Linked DNA regions of Homo sapiens: all the other regions are linked to region 1. Evidence: fine-mapped expression QTL. A gene starts in region 1. Each other region holds a variant in brackets. All regions are shown on one strand. Distances are from middle to middle. Region 1 holds the start of CUEDC1 (CUE domain containing 1). Region 2 overlaps CUEDC1 (CUE domain containing 1). Region 3 overlaps CUEDC1 (CUE domain containing 1).

Region 1 (8,178 bases):
GCCTGGAAGCCAAGGGGATCAGAGAAACACTGAGTGAGCCAACACAGCTAGCATCCTGAACTCACCAACCCATGGTAGCCAGGGCCACAGCATGACTGAGAAGTCATGGCCACTGGGGAAGGTGAATCCTCAGTCACTGCAACAAGGACTTTGCATGCCACCAAGACACTTTCAATTCCCAAGTCAAGGACCACTGGACCACAGCGCTTTAGGGTCTCCAATGCCCTTCATTTTATTTTATTTTATTTTATTTTATTTATTTATTTATGTTTTTTTTTTGGAGACAAAGTTTTGCTCTTGTCATCCAGGTTGGAGTGCAATGGCACAACTTCGGCTCACTGCAACCTCCACCTCCCAGGTTCAAGCAATTCTCCTGCCTCAGTCTCCTGAGTAGCTGGGATTACAGGCACACGCCACCACACCCAGCAAATTTTTGTATTTTTAGTAGAGACGGGGTTTCACCATGTTGGCCAGACTAGTCTTAAACTCCTGACCTCAGGTGATCCACCCCCCTCGGCCTCCCAGAGTGGTGGGATTACAGGCATGAGCCACCGCATCCGGCCTCCAATGCCCTTTATAGCTCTTGCTTCCTGTAAGTGCAAGAGCCAGCAACACAGAAGCACCACCTCCTCCAGCTCACCTTGGATAGTCAGAGGTGACCCCTGTCAGACACCCAGCTTCCTGTGCCCCAAGGCTCTAGAATACTCCTGCCTCTGCTGCTTATTACCAGAGCAAATGTAGGAAGCTCTAAAGGAAGAATACCAGTGTGAGTGCTGCCATATGCCAAACACTGTGCTCTCTAGTTAAACAAAGAAAAATCCCCTACAGCTCTCTGTGGGGGACTTGAGCCTAAGGAAGTCTTCTCAGTCCCAAGGTAGAGAAGTCACAAATGGCAGATCGTCCTAAAGCTCTTCCAGATCCCTAGCAAGTGTAGATGCCACAAACACCTATGCAGCAGCCCAGGACCCAGTGAGCCAAGAAAGGAAAGGCAGGCCAGGCCTCCTCTGGCCTGGGGCTGCACTGGGGATAGTGACAGCAGCCCTCTGGCCCCCACTTGCCTTCAAGAGTCCAAAGGGATCTAAGGAACCGACAACACCCAGATCATAGCCTTGGACAATTCTGCCCCAAGACCTCCTTAAGAGTCGTCTTTCACACTTAACACTCTCTACTAAAGCACCTCAACCCCATTTCCCCAAGAACAAGCTGGAGCTCTTAAAGGCCTGGATCTCACACCCAGCTGAAACACCAGAATATCCACCTCCACCCAAATCCCTTTATTTACCTCTAATTCAATAGACCAGTGGGCCTAGTCCAGTGCCCAGGGCCTTCCCACCACACAGACAGCAAAATGAGCCCCTGGAAAAGGGCCACCTCATCTGCCCCCATCCTCTAGCTAGCTGTAGGGAGCTGGGATCTGTCCAGACACTCCAGGTCTCCATGGCCACAAGCCCAAAGTTGCATAGGGAGGTCATGAGAAAAGACCTTAGAAGCAGTCTGCTCTTTGAACCCTGGGATTATTCACTGACCAGCCAAAAAGGTGACAACTGTTCTGATGGCCCAGGTCAGACCAGTAACTCTAGGGCAGAGGTCTCAATGGAGGTCCTGGTTCCAAGGGGGTATATTAACCGTCTGGTGTTGAATACAGGTGTCTCCCTACACACATGCATTTTGGAAGGAGAGGAGTTAGAGCTTTCACCAGATTCTCAAAGGGGCCCATGACTCCAACCTCTGGCCCTAGTTGGCCTGGCCCAGGAGCTGGGGATACAGCCCTAGTCATATCAACATCCCTGGGCCATCCTCGCTGTCCAGGGTCTCTCTTCTATTCAAGGATGTGCCCAGGTCGGTAGCAGTATCCTGTTTCCCTTGTCCTGGCCCTTCCAGCTGCAGAAAGTGGACAGCGGGTTTCACACCCAGCCCTGCTGCACACGCTCCAGCTTCCTGGAGACCCGAGCCAGGTTTCTCCCAGCAGCACCTCTCCATCCCAGAGATGGCACCATATTCAAACTGAGGTACCAGTGGCACTGACCCCCAACAACAGAGAGGACCCAGCTTCACACTTGATCCAGCAGGGGCCCAACCACATGGTGAGATGACTTCCTCCGTGAGAGAATTCCTGGGGTCCCTCACCTCCTTCAGGCACAGCTGGCTATAAAGAAAAGGGGTGAAAGGCCCAGTACATCTCCCTGAGTCCTTTCTCCTGGGCCAGGTGGCTCAGGTGCTGCGGGATCACCCAGGGAAGGCTCATTCCTCTCGCTACAAGACGCTGACTGCGGATCAGGTGGGGAGCACGGTGGATGGTCTTCTTGTATCCTCTATCGCCTCCAGGGCATCTTGTTTCTAAACTCCCAGGGAGTCCCCTCATCTTCTACTCCACTACTCCACCAAAAAAAGGAAAATCTAAACCCTCCCTCCCCTTAAAACACATTCCGTCTCAGGAATTTAATTTCAGTGTACGTTTCTTAGAGCTAAAACTTTTTTTAAGGGGAAAAGAAATGGGCAGGGCAGTGCTGGGTGTAAGGCGACCACGCGACCGAGAAAAGGAAGAGGGAGGAATGAATAAACGCTGACACCAGCCCCCCTTGGAGCTCAGAGCCTGGGGCACAGGAGCCGGCGGGGCGGGCGAGCAGGGGCGGGGACAGCGCATTCCCAACTTTCCCTGGCCGAGCTGACGGGAGATACAGCTCCCAGGGGACCGGGAGGGACCAAAAAAGGCTGAGCCGACCTGTGACATCGGCGGGGGGCAGGAAGCGAAGCTCCCCTCCCCCTGAAAGGCGCTCGGCTCCCAGCAGGCGCCCCCGCCTGCCGTCGCCGCCCAGCCTGCGCCCCCAGGCCCGGGCACTGCGGGGAGGGGCGCCCACACAAAAGGGGGAGCGGCGGGAGAGGGGACTCGGGCGAAGCCGGCTCCGGGAGGCCTCGTCTCCCTTCCCTGCGGCGCTGGCCCGCGCCCCCCGGTCTAATCGCGCGCCCCGCTCCCGGCCCCCCAGATGCCCGCACGCCCCCCGCGCCCGGGGCCCGGGATGAGGTGGGGGCTCGGGAAGGAAGGGCGGGCGGGGACCTGCCGCACGCGGAGCTCCCGGGGAGCCGCGCCGACAGCCCCGGGAATCAAACTCGCGACGGCCCGGCCCTCCCGGCGGCGCCTGGGCAACGGGTCCCGAGAAGGTGGGGCCGCTGGGCCGGGGCCGCGGCCGGGATTGCGCGCGGGGCGCCGGCGAGGACCGCGCCCGGGGCCGGGCGGGAGCCGCGGGAGCGCGGGGGTCTTACCGGGCAGCGCCACGCGCGTCCGCTCCGCGCGGGCCGCAGGGGCCGGGCCGCGGGCCGGGCGGGGGAGGGGCTGCAATCCGCAGCGGTGGCGGCGGGGCCAGGCTCGGCGGCGGCGGCGCGGCTGGGGCGCGGGGAGGCGGAGAAAGTGAGGCGAGGCCGGCTTCCTAGCGGCGGGCGGCGAGAAATGCAGCTGTCCCTGCGCGGCTGCCGGCAGGGCCACAAGTGGGGCCGCGCGGGGAGGAGCGGGGCTGCGGGCGGGGCGGGGCGGGGGCCCGGCTGCGGCGCCCCCGGGCCCTTTCCCTATGGCCGACCCCTTTCCAGAGAGGAGGGAAGCGGACCTGGGGGTCCGGAAACCTACATGGTTGCCGGGGGTGGAGAGGGGAGCACCCAGTGAAGGCTGGAAAAATGCCCTCCGTGTACCTCCCTCCCCGGCCGCAGTGACTCCCTAGCTTGCGGGCAGGAGGGCGTGAGCGGGGTGCCTCGACCTCCCGCGCAGAGCGGGGTGCGGGGCATCCTGCCCCTCCCAGCTGCGGAGAGGGTGGGCGGAGGAGACCTGAGACCTCCGAGACTCCGCGGGGAGCTAAGAGCAGGGCTGCCCGACAGGTTCCAGGTCAGTGCCAGGAACCCAGGGTGAGGACGCACAGCTGGGGCTTGGGACACAGGTGTGGAGGAGGGGCACCTCCCTGGAATTAGGGCCCCGGAAAGGAAACCAAATCAAATGCTGAGGACACAGGAGATGGTGGGAAGGGGGAGCAAATCAAAGCTATCACTCGTCCACACCGACAGATACCACCTGCCATCTCCCATTTTCTCCTCCCCCAACCTCCCCAGCATCCCTGATCACTTCAAGGGCTGCTGAGCCCTGGGAAGATTTTCCACGGAAGAACTTGTTTAATAAATGGGAAACTGACCTTTGCTATACTTTTCCCACGTGCTTTCATTTCAGACTCCAATTTGGGAGTAGGTAGCCTAGGTCAGGTGGTGACCACCAAGCACCCTGCTACCTAGGGGATCTGAGGAGGGTGAAGAAGGCCAGATGCAAACTAAGCTCTGTCCCCAAACAACTTGCAAAGGGTCTGCACCCTCCTCCTGGAAAAGTCTGCCTTACAGACCCATTTGCCCATCTGGGCCCAGAACCCCAGGAATAGCCCCCCTCTCCCCTCCTCTGAGCGCTTGCAATTTGCTAGCCTTGCTGAGACAGATCGACACGCTCAGCCTCAGAGACAGCTGATGGTAAAAACCACAAACCAAAGTGCCCCAGACACCAATGTGTTTCCATCATTTGCATGTCAAGGGCAAGTTTCTTCAGCAAGGTGGGAAACTGGGAGGGGGAGAAACCTCAGAACCACACCCTCCTCGGGGAGGCCCAACGTTAGGTTAGCATGTTGAACGGAACTCCAGGACTGGGTTTCCAAACCCCTCTGAGGATCTCCTCTCTCCTGCTCCTCTCTCCCCACACTTCACTCCCTGGTGCATTCAATTTCCGGGGGAGGCAGGGTGCTTGAAATCCCAGAAGATGGTCTTCAGGCCCCAGGTTAAAGATTCTTAATCCGAAGGGACAGACCCATGCCTCTATACTGACTCCTGGCTCCTTTCCCAGGTTGTAACTGAGAGCTCAGGATTTGTCCGCCTGGCCAATATAGTCTAGATTATGTTATCAAGTGTATTACCTTACACTTACCCATAGTGCAGTTCATTTGTCACTTTCCTGCTTACTTGCAAGATCCCTCTGCAGTTCATTCCTGTCACCTTGGCATTTCAGGAGCAGAAAAATGCATCTGCAAACCTGGAGATTTCCATTTGCACTCGCCTATGGATTGCTCATAATTTTTTTTTTTTTGAGACGGAGTTTCGCTCTGTCACCCAGGCTGGAGTGCAGTGGCACGATCTCAACTCACTGCAACCTCCGCCTCCCAGGTTCAAGCAATTCTCCTGCCTACGCCTCCTGAGTAGCTGGGGTTACAGGTGGGTGCCACCACGCCCGGCTAGTAAAATTTTTAAATACATTATTATTATAGTCATTAATAAAACCAGTTGCTCTAATGGACACTCTTCCTTGAAGCACACTTTTCTTGGGCTTTGCTAACATACTCCTCCTTTTGGGTCTGTCCTTCTGGAAGCTTTTTCTCAGACCCCTTCCCTGCCTCTCACAACTTCCCCACCCCCAGACACCTCCACCCACTCCCACCACTGCCTCTGAGCCCCCAGGGCTCCAGCCCCTCACACCAGCCGCCTACAGAGGGCCACCTGTGAGTCTCCCAGACACCTAAAACTCAAGGAGGCTAAAGGCGACTGAGACCGCTTCCCTACCTAAGCCACCTCCTCCTACTCTCCTGAATCCACCTCTGGCTCAGAGGCTGGAAGCCTCTGTCTCCTGTGCAGCTTCCCTGGCCCTCCACTGGTTATCAGATCCTGTTCATTTCTCCTTCTCTCACCGCCTCACTCCTCCACTTCTGCCTGGTTCAGGCCCTATTGTCTCTGCTCTTCCAGAGATGTCCCTTTTGCTTTCCAGCCCAACCTCCTATGTGCTTCAGGAAACTCTGTTAGTTCTTCTTTCTCCTCCCCTCTGCTTCAAAACTACAAACACTTCAGGATACCCCCTTCTAAGGGAACCTGGCCCCAACCCTGCCCTGCCCTCAAGTCATTGCCCTGTTTCTCTCTTCTGCATTCATCAGTAGGCCTCCCCTAAGAAGCAACCAGACCCACTCTCTGCTTCTTCAAGCCCTATTCAATCCTCAACTTCCTACAATCTGACTTTCTTCCCCTTCATCCTAGGGGAAGGTGATTTTTACAGGGAGGCACCGGCATCTTTCTAGGGGAAGATGCCTTTCCAAGGGAGGCAACCTTAGGCTCCTCATTGTTTCAACCCATGGGCCTCCTCCCTATCCCATTCCTTCACTCCATTGGAGCCCTGGATGTTGCTAACGCCTCCTTGAAACCATTCCCACCCTCATGGCTTCCTAGCCTCTGCGTCTTTCTATCCATTCCCTCATTTCTTCAGCTCTGCCTGCCCCAGGGGTTTCTCCAAGGCTGAGTCCTCTAACTTTCTAACCAACCCCTCTTTCCAGATGTTCTCACAGGGGGAATAGAGTGGGGCAGGTACCAACCCCTCATGGCTCCACTTGCAGACTGCATATATATATATATATATATATATATATATATATATTTTTTTTTTTTTTTTTTTTTTTAAGACAGAGTCTCGCTCTTGTTGTACAGCTTGGAGTACAGTGGCGCGATCTCGGCTCACGGCAACCTCTGCCTCCCAGGTTCAAGCGATTCTTCCAACTCAGCCTCCCGAGTAGCTAGAACTACAGGTGCACGCCACCATGCCCAGCTAATTTTTTTATTTTTAGTAGAAATGAGGTTTTACCATGTTGGCCAGGCTGGTCTCAAACTCCCGACCTCCGCCCGCCATGGCCTACCAAAGTGCTGGAATTACAGGCATGAGCCACCGCACCCGGCTATTTTTTTTTTTTTTTTTTTTGGTTGTTGTCTGTTTGTTTTGTTTTGTTTTGTTTTTGAGACGTAGTTTCGCTCTTGTTGCCCAGGCTGGAGTGCAATGGCATGATCTTGGCTCACTGCAACCTCCACCTCCCAGATTCAAGCGATTCTCCTGCCTCAGCCTCCCGAGTAGCTGGGATTACAGGCATGCACCACCACGCCCAGCTAATTTTGTATTTTTCGTAGAGACGGGGTTTCTCCATGTTGGTCAGGCTGGTCTCAAACTCCCAACCTCAGGTGATCTGCCCACCTCAGCCTCCCAAAGTGCTGGGATTACAGGCGTGGACCACCGTGCCCAGCCAAGTTTTATTAATAACATTACCCCCTCTGCACCTAGTGGAGTGTGCTGATGACCTGTCCGAGCACCCCACTCCCTCTCTCAAGCCCCTGACTGGCATGTGTTACTGCCATTGGACAAGCTGTCCCACAGCCACTGCACCTTCAGTGCGGGGAGCCTGGAGCCCATCATCTCCACATCCTTTGCAAGAATTCTCTGTCCTGGATAAGCAGCACCTCCCATTCGCTCAAGCTGCAGATGTTACATGCTGCCTTCCTCCCCTCGTACATTCAACCCCCTCAGTAAACTCAGGGCTTTCTGCTTCTGAGTTTCTCTGGAACCTGCCCCCTCTCCTCTGCCCTGGCTCAGGCCCTGCTGCCAGGGCCCTGCCTTTCAATCCATCCTTTTCAGTGCCAGCAGTTACTTTTCTAATGTACAAACCGGTGATGTCTCTGCACTGCTGAACAAGGTGGATGACTTCCCATTGCTTGGAGAATGAAATTTAAACTCCTGAGAGAGGCCCTTCCCAGGCTGCCCTTAACTTCCATTCCAGCTCTTCCCATTTTCTGTCCTCATGCCACCCACCCACTCCCGGGCTAGAACCAGCCAAGAACAGGGCAGTCACCATGGCTCACATCTGTAGTCCCAGCACTTTGGGAGGCCGAGGCGGGTGAATCACTTGAGGCCAGGAGTTCGAGACCAGCCTGGCCAACATGGTAAAACCCTATTTCTACTAAAAATACAAAAATTAGCCAGGCGTGGTGGCAGGCGCCTGTGGTCCCAGCTACCTGGGAGGCTGAGGCAGGAAAATTGCTTGAACCTGGGAGGTGGAGGTTGCAGTGAGCCAAGATCGTGCTTGACTCCAGCCTGGGTGACAGAGCGAGACTCAATCTCAAACAAACAAACAAAACCAGCCAAGAACACTTGCTGTTTCCACAGACTGAATGTGAAGGTGATGGAAGCCTTTTGCTAAGTCTGTGGCTGTATGAAGCTCAGATCGCTGGAGCATATGGCATTATCTACTGTGAGAATGAGGCTGATGGAGAGCCACTGGGCTCAGGCTTGGAAATGGTGAGCTCTGATCGGACCGTGGGGAAAACAGGACATTTCCCTTCTGAAGGTCCCCCAGCCCAGGG
Region 2 (8,178 bases), 63 kb before region 1:
ATGGGGTAGGGAGATTCTAGGGGGGTCTTCCCCAGCACCTGGATGTCAATCCCTGGAATTCTTTCAGCCCTCTGTAAGGAAATATTGATCCTCATGGCCCCAGGGGAGGCTGGGCTGGCCTGGGCAACTGGAGACACAGCAGCTCAAGCAGCCGCTTCCATTTGGCCCAAGTGCAAAGCTTTGAAAGCATCCTTGTGGGGACCACAAAATGTAAAGGACTGACAACTCCAGCCCAGCCCCACACCCTGCCTCACATTACAGGTGAAGAGCCTGAGACCCAAGTCTAGGAGGGAGTTGCCCAAGGACACACAGCGAGTAAAGGCAAAGTCTAGACTTTTCTATCAAAGGGTGGTTCTGTGGATGAGGAGAGTGGCTCAGAAACAGTAATGGGAAACACAAGGAAGCAGTAATGGGAAGCATTTTGATTACCAGAAGTACCATTTCCACAGGACTCTATAAGGTCTCAGAGACTCCCAGGCTGCCTATAGTTAGAACCAGGTGGACTATAGAGGCCCCCAATTCTCAGAGCACTGTCCCTCTCTCCCCCTGGCTAAGCTCAGGGCAGAGTCTGAGGCCATGGCTGTGGTGTGCCTGGGAGCAGGGTCAGAGCCGTCCATGCCAGGCTGCCTTTTGCAACTAGCACTGCTCAAATGAAAAGCAGTTTAAAATACACGAAAGGATTAAAGCAAGTAGGCGACAGGTTTACGAGCCTGTGCCACATGCTTTCACATTTAATCTTTATTACAACTCCATGAGACAGGTGTTGCTGTCTCCATTTCATAGCTGTGGGAACCATTTCAGAGAGGTTGGGTAAATTGCCCAAAGTCACACAGCCAGTATGTGGAGAGGCCAGAATAGGAACCCACTTCCTAAGAGGCAAAAAATGCCAAGTAAGGCTCACAGGGCTATGAGCCAAGGAGCATAAGAAATTCAGCCATGTGTGCCCCAGGCTCAGGAGACTGGGCACAGCCCAGAGGACATTTCAGCACAGGAAACATGACCCAGACAGCATGGTAGCAAGGTCTCTTGGCTCTGCTCCAGAGCTGGCTCTGTGACCTTGGAGAAACCATACCACCTCTCAGAACCCCAGCTGCTGAGCACTGGCAGGGAAACAGAGGGACATAACCCCTGACTGGCTTCTGAAAAAGGAAGCAAACAACCCACTGGGCTCATCAGACCTCTCGGAGGCTGACTCAAAGGCTCCCCTGAACTCATGGTTGTGGATGACCTGGAGACTGGGAAGCAGAAACCCCACACCTGTCCTCCTCCAGGTCCCAGGAAGCCAGGATCACAGTGGCCCTCCACCTCCCCTGTGAAGGAATCCAGGCCCGGCAGGGGCGGCAAACAGCCAACCTCCTCTCCTAGCATAAGCACGCAGCCAAGGCCTGAGTCACTCCCGGCTTGGCCCACGGAGGTGGGCAAGCTGCCCCAGTGCAGTTCATCTGGCCTTGCCCAAGGTCATCCCAGCCAGCCTCCTGCCTGGTACATCAGGGCCAGCGAGGGTCTGCATGGGGGCTATGAGAGCTGGGGAGCCAGAGTCCTGGGTGCACTTTGTGACCTTAGTAAGGCTGTGTGACTTGGGGAAATTGTTTCATTTCTTTGCACCTCAGCTCCCTCATTTGTAGACATAGGGGAGGAGTATTAATAGAACGTACATGGGTACCTGGCGTATAATAAGCACCAGTGACACAGGCTGCTGTGGCTTGGGGCACAGGCCTGGGACCTTTTCCCGGGCTAGACTCACTCCCTGAGCAATCTCATCCAGCCCCATGGCTTGGAATACCATCTGCATACTGAACACTGGCTCTCATGTGCTCCAACCTCTCATGGGCACTCCCCTCAACTCCACACTCATACAGCCTTCTTGCTGCCTCCACTTGGACATCCAACAGCAGCTCCAACAACATGGATCCATCCGACCTGTGATTCCCTCCGACCCCAACCTGCTTCTCCCCTGCCTTCTCCATCTTTGTTAATGGCAACTCTCCCTGGCTCCAGCCAAAACCTTTGGAGTCATCTTGGAGTGCTCTCATTCTCTTATACTCTATGTCCAATCTATGGCGAAGCCTGTCTTCCCCGTCTTCCAAATGATTTCTGAATCTGGCCACTCCTTACCACCTCCACAGCTACCATACCCTCCCTAGCTCCCTGCCTCCCACGTGTTGGCCTAGAGACCCCTCATCACAGGGGTCATGCCCTTCCTCTGCTCCATGCCTCCCAATGGCTCCCATGTCCCCAGAATACCCAGAGCTTTACCGTGGCCAACCCACATGGTCCTGCCCATGTCACCTCGCTGTCATATGTGCACGCACACATACAGACAGAGCCTAACTCTCTGTGGCCACCTGGATCCTTGCTAGTCCACCAACGAGCCAAGCACACTCCCACCCAGGGGCCTCTGAACTTACTTTTTCCACCAACTGCTACGTTCTGCTCCCACATATCTGCATGGCTCCCTTCCTTCTGGTCCCTACTCAACCATCACCTTGAGGGGGAACAGAGTGGCAAGTCCACCCCCCAACATCCCAGTGTTCCTAACCCTTTAGGCTTCCCTGTCTTCTTCATGAAACAGACCACCTTGAATATTATACATTTGTCACTGATATCTTCTCCACTAGAATGTAAGCTCCATGAAGGCAGGGGCTTTGCTATACTCACTGTGGTATCCCCAGTGCCCGAATCAGTGCCTGGCATGGTCAATAGACATTTATTAGGCGAATGAGTAAAGAAGGGAAGGAAAGATGGAGGAGTGCTGTAACTGTGGATTTCCCTCCCTTTCCTTCCTCCTCCGGCTCACAGCAATGATGGGAGGGGGCCTTTTCAGTTTCCAAAGCCCTCTCTCCCCTACACACTCATTTACTCCTCACAACAAACCTAGAAGATATATAAGGGAATGCGTTATTATCTCACTTCACAGACAAGGGGTCTGAGGCCAAGGCAGCCCAGTGACGTGGACACAAGGCTGATGGCAGGCTGCCCCTTTCCAAGCCAGTGCCAGCACCAGGGGGCAGGAGGCTAACCCCCTCCTAGATCTGACTTGACCTTCCATTCTGCCCCCCAGGAGGACCAGGGCCCAACCCTGAAAGGTGGGAGTTAGAACAGGAAGCCACAGGTCCCAATTGCCAGCACCTTCCTGTGTCCCACCCAGAGGCCACTCTTCTGGAAGGAGGGTAAGACTCCTCAGACCAGCTCTGTCTCTGTGCACCCCAGGCTCCCTCCTCTGAAAATCACCAAGGAGCAGACCCTACGTCCATCTGTGACTGCCGTGATGCCTGCCTGCAGAGGGATTTGCTTCTTGCCTAAGATCTGGCACAGCCCAGTGGCGCTGCCAAGCCAGGCCACTAGGTGGTGTCCCAGAGCTCAGGCCCTGGCAGCTCCCAGGGAAAGGGCCAGAGTGGCTTTTCTCTCAGAACCCAAGAATGTGCCCCACCCCCACCCTTGGCCTGATTAAAAGGGAGAAGAACCACCCAGTTGCCTCAGGGGTCTTAGCACCCAAGACCCGCAGAGTTGTCAAATCATTTAATCCTAGGCAGGAAATCTTTGGCACATGTGCCACCACCTTCTAGCCCTCATCCTTGGCAGACATCACTAATCCACCCAGGTATTACTGTCCTACAGAACACACACAACCTCAGAACCCTTTGCAACACCGCCTCTGTGCAAGCCACGACCAAGTGATTAGAACTGGCATGCAAGACAAGCCACTTGCCAGCGCTCTCATTTCCCGTATGAGGACACGCAGGCCAGGCTCACTCTGTCTCATTGGGAATCCAGGCTGCAAAAGCCAGTGGGGCCAGAATGAGGTCATATGACCCTGGGAGGCTTGTGTAACCATGGTTGAGTCCTGCGGAAACCTCAAGTGTGTAATGGCAGAGGCTGCTGGGCTGGGGCAGCTGCATTCTCGGCCAATTGTCACCTCAGAGCGGGTGGGGTGCAGGGAAATCTGCCTGAGCTTCTTGGCTTCAGAGCTGAAGAGGCCCCAAAAGGGGGTGAAAGGAAGGGAAGAGGAGAGCAAGAGACAGAGGCTCTCAGGGTATGTGTGTGTGTGTGTGTGTGTGTGTTTCAGGCAGCCCTGACAGAGACGCCTTGTCCTCCTGCCCCTGCAAAGGCTTGTTTTCTTCCCAAGCTATTAATGTCGCTGCAGCTTCAAAAGCCGGGTGACCTTTAAACGCTGAGCCTCCTGCTCCTGCCCAAGGCTCGGAAAAGGCTTAATGGAAACTCGACCCAAATGGCCACAGCTGCCGGGGCTGCAACAAAGCCAGCCTCATTCCCGAGGCCCCCAGAGCTGCTGGGCAGCCACACCTGTGCCCACCCCCAGGCAGCCAGGAAGGGCAAAGAGGACCCTCGGGCACAGCCATTGGAGAAAAGAGGCCACTGGACCTTAGGGGAG[G/A]AGGAGGAGGAGCAGGGGAGAGACAGACAATGCTGTCATGCGCTGCTGTGTGACCTTGGGTACTTCTCTGGACCACTCATCTCTTCTACATCTGTAAAACACGAGAATTTGGCAGGGCACAGTGGCTCACGCCTGTAATCCCAGCACTTTGGGAGGCCAAGGCAGGTGGATCACGAGATCAGGAGTTCAAGACCAGCCTGGCCAAAATGGTGAAACACCGTCTCTACTAAAAATACAAAAATTAGCCAGGCATGGTGGTGGGTGCCTGTAATTCCAGCTACTCGGGAGGCTGAGGCAGAGAATTGCTTGAACCTGGGAGGTGGAGGTTGCAGTGAGCCAAGATCGTACCACTGCACTCCAGCCTGGGTGACAGAGCAAGACTCCGTCTCAAAAACAAAACAAAACCAAACCATGAGGATTTGATAAAAGGACTCCTAAACCTCTTTGCCAGGAAGAAGCCCCACTGCCACCCAGAGAAGCAGGACACCTGGTTTCCATGCCCACACAGCAGAGCTGCCGGCAGGGGTGAGGCTGGGGGCAGCCCCTGCCTTCCAAAGGCTACTCCATGAGCTGTGCAGGCTGGGCATGGCATGATGCCTTGGCCACCCCCACCCCTATCACTTAGATCTGTAAGGGTGGGGCATTCCTTTAAAAATTGTTTTTAATCTTTAAAAATCAGAAGAAAGGCCAGGCTTGGTGGCTCATGCCTGTAATCCCAGCACTTTGGGAGGCCGAGGCGGGCAGATCATCTGAGGTCAGGAGTTTGAGACCAGCCTGGCCAACATGGTAAAACCCTGTCTCTACTGAAAATACAAAAATTAGCCCAGTGTGGTGGCGCATGCCTGTAATCCCAGCTACTTGGGAGGCTGAGGCACTTGAATCACTTGAACCAGGAGGCAGAGGTTGCAGTGAGCCAAGATCACACCACTGTACTCCAGCCTGAGCAAGAGTGAGACTCTGTCTCAAAAAAAAATCAAAAGAAAAAATACGATTCAAAAAAGACCTTTTCTTTTCTAATTTTTCTCTCTCCTGCCTCAACACTTGTGGCCAAGTCTGTAGCCAATGGGAGATGTGGGGCAGGGACGAGGGCAAGAGGTTTCAGAGAAGGTGAATGAGGTCCCTTGTGGACAAATTGGTCCCAGAGCCTCAGTCCTAAGGACATCATCATTCATCTCTGCTCCTGAGGCCCAAATATCAGGTGTGGCTGCCACAAAAGGCACCATCAAGAAGCCAATTCTGCCTTCTAGTGAAAAAGATCCAAGATGAGGCTTCTCAGCAGAGAAACATGTCATTTGTTTGGTTCATCTTAGCAAGATAATGGTCATAATAGTCATAATGAGAATAGATAACACTTATTGCCTGCTTCCTTATATGCTAGCCACTACTCAAAGTGCCTTATTGCATGTTAACTCTCTTCATCCTCCCTACAGCTCTACAAGGTGCATATTACTACTGCTATTTCCACTTCATAGTAGAAAAATGAGGCGTAGAAGGGTTGAGTAACTTGTTCAAGGTCACACAGCTAAGTGGCCAAGCTGAAATTTGAACCCAGAAGGTCCGATTCCAGATTTAACACTCTGTATCCATTGGGCTTGATCACCATTCCATATTCCCTAGAGCCTAGCACAGAGCTGGGCACACAGCAAGAACTCAATAACTGTGAGTTAAATTGAATACTAAAGGACAGGGTTGCCCCTGGAGAGGCTGGGGGTGCCTGGGTGCCACTGGAGGTATAAGGGATGGTGCTTATGTCCAGGAAGCAAAGGAGAAGACAAAACAGTGGCAGTTTCCTCACAAAACCTTTTTCCCATCCTACTGAAGTTGTCAAGTTGCCTGAGCAACCAACTGTTTTCCACCACAACCTGGGCTGGCTGGGGACTATTTCCACAACAGTCCCTCACTCCATAAACAAAAGCCACCAGCTCAGCCAAGATATTCGACTCAGGTGCCTGGGAGGAGATCAAACCTCAGCGGATTAAGGGGGCTACTGTCCCCCTGCCCCTCCCCTCCCAGGTGCCACAGCTCTAGGGGACCCCACTGGGCTGGCAGGAACACGCGCGTTCATGCTACCAAGTCAAAGGGCCCACGCTGGAGGAAGGGGGCCACTGGTAACTCAGGTGCAGGGCCAAGGAAGCTGGGTTGGCTCCAGGCATGAGCTCATACTGGACCAGGCCCAGCTTCTTGGGAAAAGGGGTCAGCTGCTCCTCCCTGGGCTTCTCCTATAGGCAGTCAGGCTGAAGGCCCCCCCAGTAGGCTGAGTTCTGAGGTCTGGACAGCAGCAGGAGACACCTCTGGGTCCCCGGACAGGCAGCAATCCATGCCCCACAATTTAGCATCCGAACATGCCCAGGTAATCCGGGTCAAGGAACCCATGATTAGAAAGGAGTGCTCAGGATGGGCAGAGGAGGGTCCTGCAAACAGAACTCCCAACCCCTGCCCTTGCCCTCCACACTAAGGCACACTTTGCACCTACCTACTGATTCAGGAATTCCACTTCTATGAAATTTACCTACAGATGATATGTTTGCAACTGTGTTGAGTATGGGCATAAGGATATTCCTTGTAATAGTCTAACAGCAGAAGACTGGAAACACTCTACAAGTCTACCCGTAGCAGGCTGATGAAAATATGATACATTATCAGCATCCTCCTCTCTCTATATAATGCTATTCAATAACAAACAAAAATGAGGGATTTCAATATGTCTCTTTAGCCCAAGACCTAAGGGAACAATGCAAGGTACAAAACAATGAGTATAGTCACTCTACTATAGTGCATTATGGGGTGTGTGTGTGTGTGTGTGTGTGTGTGTGTGTGTGTGTGTATGAAATCCGAAAGGATTCACAAGAAACTGATAATATATGTTTCCCCTGGGGAGAACTGGGTCATAAGAGATAGATCAAGGAAATTTTTCCACTACAGATTCTTGTATACCTCTAAAATTTTGATTGATACTCATTTATTAATTTAAAAATAAAATATGCAAATAATCCATTATTATTGGATTACTAAGAACATTAAAGTAATAGCATTGCCAGTGATTTTTATATCTTTTTCTTCTTTCTTTTTTTTTTTTTTTTTTTTTGAGATGGAGTCTCTCTCTGTCATCCAGGCTGGAGTGCAGTGATGTGATCTCAGCTTATGCAACCTCTGCCTCCCGGGTTCAAGTGATTCTCCTGCCTCAGCCTCCAGAGTAGCTGAGACTACAGGTGCGTGCCACCATGCCAAACTAATTTTTTGTATTTTTAGTAAAGATGGGGTTTCACCATGTTGGCCAGGCTGGTCTCGAACTCCTGACCTCTGATAATCTGCCTGCCTAGGCCTCCCAAAGTGCTGGGATTACAGGCATGAGCCACCGCGCCTGGCCATGTCTTTTGCATATTATATCATCTACAGCAGACATAAGTTACTATTTAATAATAATTATAGCAAACGTCTATGAGCACTTGGTAGGTACATGCATTTTCTATATACTTGGCATGCATTATCTCATCAAATCCCCACAGTACAGCAATGAATACATCCATTTCACAGAAAAGAAAACTAAGGCTCAGAGAGATTAAATAACTTACACAGGGTCACATAGTCAGTGGCAGAGCCCGATTTGGAATCCAAACAGTCTGGCCCCGGAGTCCATGATCTTCTTAACTTCCAACCTATAGTGTCTCTAATTAAAAGTTTTTCTAGCCGGGCGCAGTGGCTCACGCCTGTAATCCCAGCACTTTCGGAGGCCGAGGCAGGTGGATCACAAGGTAGGGAGATTCAGACCATTCTGGCTAACACGGTGA
Region 3 (8,178 bases), 23 kb before region 1:
CTCTTTGCTATCAAGAAATAGCGAAGAGGGCAACTTGAGTTTCTCCAGAAAGGGAGAATATACTGGCATTCGAGAATTAGAGGTACCTGGCACTGAAAGTCCACCCAGCCTGCCTGGGAGACAGTATCCAGGATATAAACTCGGGGTGGGGGGCGGGAGGGAAAGGGTTAAGAGTCAGGTCCTGTGGGATTAAAGGATTTCCTACTCTGTGTTTATTACTTCTTTCCATCACTTAAAAACAAGTTCCAACATTGTCCCAATTCTGATCCTGGGTTTTACTTGGATCCACACTGAGAAAAATAATTCATTACGGCAGCCCCAAACTATCAGAAATTAGCAGGCGGGGAAAAAAAGTTTCCATTCCATACTAATTTGCCACAGTTTTAAAGGCCACCGTCTGTCTAAAAACAAGGGTGTTCCTTAACTGAGGCCATTGTCCTCATTTCCAGATGCTCCAAGACAGCAAACAATGACAATGATGCTGCTGCCAACATTTGACACCCAATATTATCAAGCCCAAATTCTGTGTGCTGGGCTCTTAACGATAAGCTTTACCCAAACTTATCTCATTTAATCCTCACCCCTGCCCTATGAGGCAGGGGCATTATCATCTCCAATTTAGAGATGACAAAATTAAGCCCCAGAGAGGTTAAACAGCCGCCCAAGAACACACCGCAAGTCAGTGACAGTGCCAGGATTCAAACCTGGATCTATCTGACCCCAAAGACAGGGCTCTAGACCAGGGCCACTAAAAGTATGTCCACAGACCACCTACAAACTGTTAGTTGTGGGTCCTTACCAAATAAGTAGAGAAAAAGAAAGGAAGGAAGGATTTTAAAATGTTTCTAGCAATCTGACCTTAGCACAATATCCAAGCATGTGATCTGTGGACTTCCCTCTTAGAACAGGGTATAGACCAGTCTGGATGTTCTCAGACTGGCTCAGACTGGTCATGCTCATCGGTTCCTGAACTAAGGAATAGAGCATATTGTCCTTCACCTCAGATACTTTGAGAAGCACTGTTTTAAAGCACTGCAAAGACGGGTCATACAAGACACTCAAACAAGGTTCAGCACGTCCCCAGCTGTCCCTGCAGCATCCAAAGTCTTCTAGCACAGCGCTTCTCAGTCTGTCTCTCTCTCTCTTTTTCTTTTTTGAGACGGAGTTTCGCTCTTGTTGCCCAGGCTGGAGTGCAGTGGCGCGATCTTGGCTCACTGCAACCTCCGCCTCCCAGGTTCAAGCAATTCTCCTGCCTCAGCCTCCCGAGTAGCTGGGATTACAGGCAGGCACCACCACGCCCAGCAAATTTTTTTTGTATTTAGTAGAGACAGGGTTTCACCATGTTTGTCGGGCTGGTATCGAACTCCTGCCCTCAGGTGATCCACCCGCCTCGGCCTCCCAAAGTGCTGGGATTACAGGCGTGAGCCACTGCGCCCGGCCACTTCTCAGACTTTAATGTGCACACGAACCACTGGGGACCTTGTTAAAATGTAGATAGATTCAGGAAGTTCAAGGTGGGGCCCGTGATTCTCCATTTCTAACCAGGTGATGTCAGCGCTGCTGGTCTAGGGACCTGACTTTGGGTAGCAAGTCTCCAACTGCACAAGCAGACCAGAGCCAACGAGGCTGATGCTGTGAACTCCACCTGGCAAACAAGTCGGACTCCAGCAAAGGCTCACCAGTTAGCACTGGCTGTGAGGAGGCCAGAAGGTAGCCCTTACAAACACCTTTCCCCAACTCCAGGCTGAGTCTGGGATGCCCAGGGGCCCTTTTATCCTGAGTCAGAAACCAAAGCCCTCTCCGTCCCAGGGGTTTAACAGAAGGCAGAGAAAAGCAGCTCAGAAGCACTTGCAAACATTGCGAGGAACGCTACCCACAACCACAGCAAGAGGAGGGAGGATTTTGAGAAAACTGTGCCCACTTCTTTGGTTCTGCTCAAGCCAGACTGAAGCTGGGTCTCCAACAGTGATGGCCTGGGAGAATCACTACACACGTGTGTTTGGACAGCACTTTCTACTTCTTAAAAAGAAGATATCCACATCTATCGTGAAAGCTGAGAAATCTAAGAGCTGGAAGCCTGGGAGGAAGGGATGTGCTGTGGCCAACACAGGAGGGCAGAAATGACCCCTCTGTGACCGCTCCTGTAGCCAGAAAGAGCCACAAACAGTCCAACTCCAAAGGGGAAATGGTCCCCATTTCCTGCAGGTAACCTTCTCATGACCTGCTCTACTCCCTGGAAATTCTTGACACTAAAGGACACTAAAGACCTTCTTCCTTAGTGCCAACCTCAGTCTCTCCTAGTTCCATTTCTGGCACAAGGACTGAATGACTTATTAAAGGAGCTGGCCGGGTGTGGTGGCTCCTGTCTGTAATCCCAGCACTTAAGGAAGCTGAGACAGGCAGATTACTCGAGCTCAGGAGTTCGAGACCAGTCTGGGCAACATGGCAAAACAGGGTCTCTACAAAAAATACAAAAATTAGCTGGAGGTGGTGGCACACACCTATAATCTCAGTTACTTGGGGGCTGAAGTGTGGGATCATCTGAGCCTGGGAAGTCGAGGCTGCAGTGAGCTGTGTTCACACTCCAGCCTGGGTGACTAAGTGACATCCTGTCTCAAAAAAAAGAAAGAAAGAAAAAAGAAACAAACAAAAAAAGAGGGAGAGGTACAATTCGCAGGAAAAACCCCAGATCTCCCATTCATTCCGGGCAGTCGCTCATTCATTCAAAAACACTGATGAAGCCACTGCCACATGCCGGGCACTGTCAGGAAGTGGGCATAGAGGCACAGGCTGGGGCCTTCTCCTTACCCTCCTCTAAAGAAGTGGGGAATAAGCAAAAAAGGGGTCATGAGGGCATTAACTAAGTCAAAGGGCACTGCTGTTCCTGCAGTGGGGGGAAAGAGAGTTCCTGGGCAGAAGCTCTCACATATGCATGGACTCAGGGAAAGCCAGTCCGAGGGTGAGACTGGGTATTCAAGTTGATGGTGGCTGACAGATCTCCTTCTCTTTACTCACACAGGGCCAAGAAAGGCCTGAGGGTTAGGAACACACAAAGGAACACAGTCAGAGGGACTTCATGTCCCAACCAAAGGTGTCTCAATAAGACACAGTCCCGAATCCAGGGAGGATCCGGCTGAAAAGCCTCCTCTGGATTGCAGAGGACTCCCGTGAAACCACGAGCCTCTTTCTCCTTTGCAAAAATCAAATCGTATTCTCCCACCTCCAAACCCTGCCATGTGCTGCTTCCCTACACGATGCCCCCACCCTGCTCCTCTCACCCACATGTGTCCTTCCCTCTCTCAGAATTCTGCTTAAAACGCATCTCTAGGCTGGGAGTGGTAGCTCATGCCTGTAATCCCAGCACTTTGGCAGGCTGAGGCAGGCACATCGCCTGAGGTTAGGAGTTCGAAACCAGCCTGGCCAACACGGTGAAATCCCGTCTCCACTAAAAACACACACACACACACAAAATAGCTGGGTGTCGTGGTACATGCCTGTAATCCCAGCTACTCGGAAGGCTGAGGCACAAGAATCTCTTGAACCCGGGAGGTGGAGGTTGCAGTGAGCCGAGATCGCGCGACAGCACTCCAGCCTGGGCAACAAAGTGACACTGTGTCTCAAAAAAAAAAAAAAAAAAAAAAGGCCAGGCATGGTGGCTCACGCCTGTAATCCCAGCACTTCAGGAGGCCGAGATGGGCAAATCACGAGGTCAGGAGATCGAGACCATCCTGGCTAACATGGTGAAACCCCATCTCCACTAAAAATACAAAAAAATTAGCCGGGCATGGCAGCGGGTGCTGTAGTCCCAGTTACTCGGGAGGCCGAGGCAGGAGAATGTTGTGAACCCAGGAGGCAGAGCTTGCAGTGAGCAGAGATCACGCCACTGCACTCCAGCCTGGGTGACAGAGCAAGACTCTGTCTCAAAAAAAAAAAAAAAAAAAAAAAAAAAAGTCTGTTGGAGGGCCAAGGTGGTTGGATCATTTGAGGTCAGGAGTTCCAGATCAGCCTGGCCAACATGGTGAAACCCCATCTCTACTAAAAATACAAAAATTAGCTGCGCGTGGTGGCAGGCTCCTGTAATCCCAGCTACTTGGGAGGCTGAGGCAGGAGAATTGCTTGAACCCAGGAGGCAGAGGTTGCAGTGAGCCGAGATTGTGCCACTGCACTCTGGCCTGGGCAACAAGAGCAAAACTCTGTCTTAAAAAAAAAAAAAAGTCTGGTCCAGGCGCTAGAGCAAGGGTTCTCAACCTTAGGCACTATTGACATTTGGGCTAGAGAGTAAGGGGCTGTCCTGTATATTGGAAGATGTTGAGCAGCATCCCTGGCCTCTACCCACAAATGCCAGTAGCAACATCACCCCCAGTTGTAACACTGCCAATGTCTCCTGGGGGGCCAGATGATCCCCACTTGTGAACCACTGCACTAGATAGATGGTTCTCAACCCTGGCTGCCCAATAGAAACACCTGGGCAATGTATAAAATTTACCCCTGCCTGGGCCCCACCCAGCACTAGCAGAATCAGACAGCCTCACGGGCAGCAAGGGGGGAGAACCACTGAACAGAGCTGCTCTGGACATTTTGGATCTCTTAGCCAGTCTAAGATTCTACAAGTAAACAACAATGTCTGTAACTTTATATAGCCTTGATGTTCTAACGTGTTGGTCGGTT[CCT/C]CCATTAGACCAAATCTCTCCAGAAGCAGGAACCATATCTTCTTTTTCCCTGTCTCCACAAAGCTGTATGCAGTGCCTCTTATTTTATACTAATCAAAAAAGCTGGGCAAGTTCATGAGCCCCCCTCCACCCCAATTTCAGATGAAGAAGCCACTTTCATCTCCCCCAGTTCAACAGCATATGACAAGGGAGAATTTGCAAAGGGAGGAAGGGACAGAAGAGATGGGAATCCAGGAGGACCCAGCCACCTGATCTAGCCTTGGAACGAGACTGCTCTCTGCCAGCTGTGGGGAAAGCTTGCTGAGTTGCAGGGATGCAGGGCTAGGTATACTCATACTTCCTCAGCCCCACCTCTCCCGGCCAGACTGGAAGGCATGAAGCTGGGGTCTTCAGCAGTAAACTCTAGTCTACCAGATCGGATGCTGCATTCCCCAGGCCGACAGTGACTCGAGAACAAATGAACACAGGCCCAGAACACCTCTATTTGGAGCCCGACTTATGGGCTGGGATCTTTCTCCCTACACCTCCTTCAAGACTCCCCAGGAGCATCTGGGGACCTGGCTGAGAGAGGCCAGCCCAATGTTAACAGATGCAGTCATATCTGCCTCCTGCTCCCCTCCCCATCCTGCTCACCACCTCTTCAGACAAGGCAAAGAGGAATGCAGTGTCAAGAAAGAATATTTAAAGCCAAGGTGGGAGGACTGCTTGAGCCCAGGAGTTTGAGACCAGCCTGGGCTGGGCAACATAGTGAGACCTCTTCTCTACAATATAAAAATAAAGGCCAGGTGCGGTGGCTCACACCTCTAATCCCAACACTTTGGGAGGCCAAGGCAGGAGGATCATGAGGTCAGGAATTCAAGACCAGCCTGGCTAGTATGGTGAAAGCCCGTCTCTACTAAAAATACAAAAATTAGCCAGGCGTGGTGACACGTGCCTATAGTCCCAGCTACTCGGGAGGCTGAGGCAGGAGAATTGCTTGAACCCAGGAGTCGGAGGTTGCAGTGAGCCAAGATCACACCACTGCACTCCAGCCTGGGAAACAGAGCAAGACTCCGTCTCAAAAATAAAAATAAAAATAGCCGGACATGGTGGTGCACACCTGTAGTCTCAGCTACTTGGGAGGCTGAGGCAGGGGTATAGCTTGAGCCCACAAATTCCAGGTTATAGTGAGCCATTACTGTGACACTGTACTCCAGCCTAGGCAATATAGCAAGACCCTGTCTCTCTAAAAAAAAAAAAAAAAAAAAAAAAAAAGGAAAGAAAGACAATATTTGGATATGAACCCCTATCTTTTTTAAGAAGTGGAAGTGCATTTGCTATCTACTCATTCCTTAACAGATACATAGAGAATACTTAGAGGGGCAGACATGCCATCCTTCCCGATTGTTTTTTTGAGACAGAATCTCACTCTGTTGCCCAGGCTGGCATGCAGTGGCGTGATTTCGGCTCACTGCAGCCTCTACCTCCCAGATTCAAACAATTCTCATGCCTCAGCCTCCCGAGTAGCTGGGATTACAGGCATGCCCCACCATGCCCAGCTAATTTTTGTATTTTTAATAGAGACAGGGTTTCGCCATGTTGCTCAGGCTGGTCTCGAACTCCTGAGCTCAGGTGATCCACCTGCCTCAGCCTCCCAAAGTGCTGGGATTACAGGCATGAGCCACCACACCCAGCCCGTTCCCCATTTTTATACTTGGGTTAAGCTCACAGACAAAATGATGGGGATAGAATCCAGGGACCAAGCTCCCCAAGACAGCAAAGGCTATTCAAGTGCCCGCAATCAGCTTTCTTACTAAAACTCACTGACTAATACACAAGAATGCAAACTGCCAATGTGTTTACCTTACATTTAATGAATGGTTTAGTGTTTTCTCTGAGATTTTACTTATTTGATATTCCATGACAACAGGATGAGCAATCCTTAAAGACCTGCTTCAGGCAGCCCTGGCTGGCTTGCTGAAATCAGTGTAGAGCAGTGAAGGCTTCCATCCTGAGTGACCAGCGTGACAGTGATTTTTTTTTTTAAGCTTCCCTCCCTTCCATTAGACACACACACACACACACACACACACAAACACACACACACACACCCTGTTGCCTAGAGACTGGACACATTCCTGGTGCTTACTCTTCTTTTCATTCTCCAGAAGCAGGAGCTTTAGAAACTGGGGCCTCCAGGAAATATGCCTGGGGCCGGGGTGAAGGGGGTCCAGGAGTGACATTTCCTCATAGCCAGGCCCGCCCCATCCCCGCTGCCCTCCCTTTCCTCCCGAGGTTTGAAAAGCCCCAGCAGGCTGGAACTGAAAGGCTTCCACAGGGAACAAAACAAGGCCCCCTTTGAAAGCCTGTGTTTACCCCGGGTGCAGCCAGGGGTTGCCATGGCCACGGTCCACCTTGGCGGGCCAGGCCCGCCTGGAGCAGCCTCAGCGCCTGGCCGTCCCACCCCAATTCCTTCCTAGGGGACCCTACTGGCACCCCTCTCCTGGGCCCCCTTGACTGCTGGAAGCATGGATTTTCATCAAGTCCCCCAAGCTGAAAACATAATCCTGGAGAGACTGAAAGAGGATTAAGCCTCCCTCTGGGGCTCCTGAGAGAAAGACCAGGGGACTTGACCAGCCCTGTCCACACCCACCTCCGCTGTTGCTGTCCTGTCTCCTGGGCCAGTGACCCACCCGCTGCTAATGAGAATGACTTATTTATGTCATTCATTATCGCTATGTCCTGGAGCCAAGCAGCATCAGGGGAGGCCAGACCAGGAGTGGGGCAAAGAGGAAAGGGAGGGTCTCTCCTCTCAGCCTCAACCTGAATCTGTCAGGCCCTGTGGGCTGCGGGAAACCACAGAGGCCTTGTGACCCAAGGACAAAAGCGGCTGAGGACATGGCAGGACAGTGTGGACTCCCAGGGCCCCTGAGTGCACAAGCCTGGCCAGGGAAGCTCAGCCCTCCCTGGCTCCACATTCCTCCTTTGGCCCTTCCCCAGGAGAAGCCAGAGGGAGCAGAGGCTCTAAATAATTCAGCCCTCCAATTGCTCTGTGGTCAGAGCTTCTTCATTTATTTTTTAACTCTCCAGGCTCCACAGTTTCGCAATGGAAGCACTCTAATCCCAGCCCTCACAACCAGGTGCCTCTCAAGCCCCCAGCCCAGGATGGCAGGGAAGGAGGCACCCAACTTCTAGGATTCTGCAGACTCATCCCTAAGGTTCAACACATCTTGAGGCCTCAGGGACAGTGGCTGGGATGCAGATGGGCAGCGGGAGGAGAGGAGGCAGTGCTGGCTCCAGGGCTGTTTCCACAGAGCATGGCACTACTGTGCTGGCAGAACTGGATTAATAGAAAGACCTGAGCCGCAACCCGGGTGAGGCTCAGATCCACCTCTGTCAGCAGCTCCACTCTCCTGCGCACTGCTCCTCTAGCCTCCTATCTATCCTTTCTCAGGGCTTCTTCCTGCACCCCCAGCCCATCCCGCCCCCATACAGCCCTCCACGTTCATTCACACTTTTTTTTTTTTTG

Evidence for each region.
Region 2: its variant is fine-mapped to the expression of CUEDC1 in whole blood (TOPMed, PIP above 0.99).
Region 3: its variant is fine-mapped to the expression of CUEDC1 in whole blood (TOPMed, PIP above 0.99).

What each region holds. Positions count from the first base shown.
Region 1 is chr17:57,951,964-57,960,141 of GRCh38, forward strand. CUEDC1 (CUE domain containing 1) reads right to left here and starts at 3,449. Exons shown (of 11, transcript NM_001271875.2): 1 at 3,262-3,449. RefSeq lists an enhancer at 514-1,015 and a silencer at 3,304-3,373.
Region 2 is chr17:57,889,314-57,897,491 of GRCh38, forward strand. All of the region lies in intron 1 of CUEDC1 (CUE domain containing 1), which reads right to left. Among named protein-coding and RNA genes, the nearest start is that of CUEDC1-AS1, 19 kb to the right of the region's middle. RefSeq lists enhancers at 3,255-3,996, 3,657-3,706. The variant G/A (reference allele first, on the strand shown) is at 4,391.
Region 3 is chr17:57,928,663-57,936,840 of GRCh38, forward strand. All of the region lies in intron 1 of CUEDC1 (CUE domain containing 1), which reads right to left. Among named protein-coding and RNA genes, the nearest start is that of CUEDC1-AS1, 21 kb to the left of the region's middle. The variant CCT/C (reference allele first, on the strand shown) is at 4,669.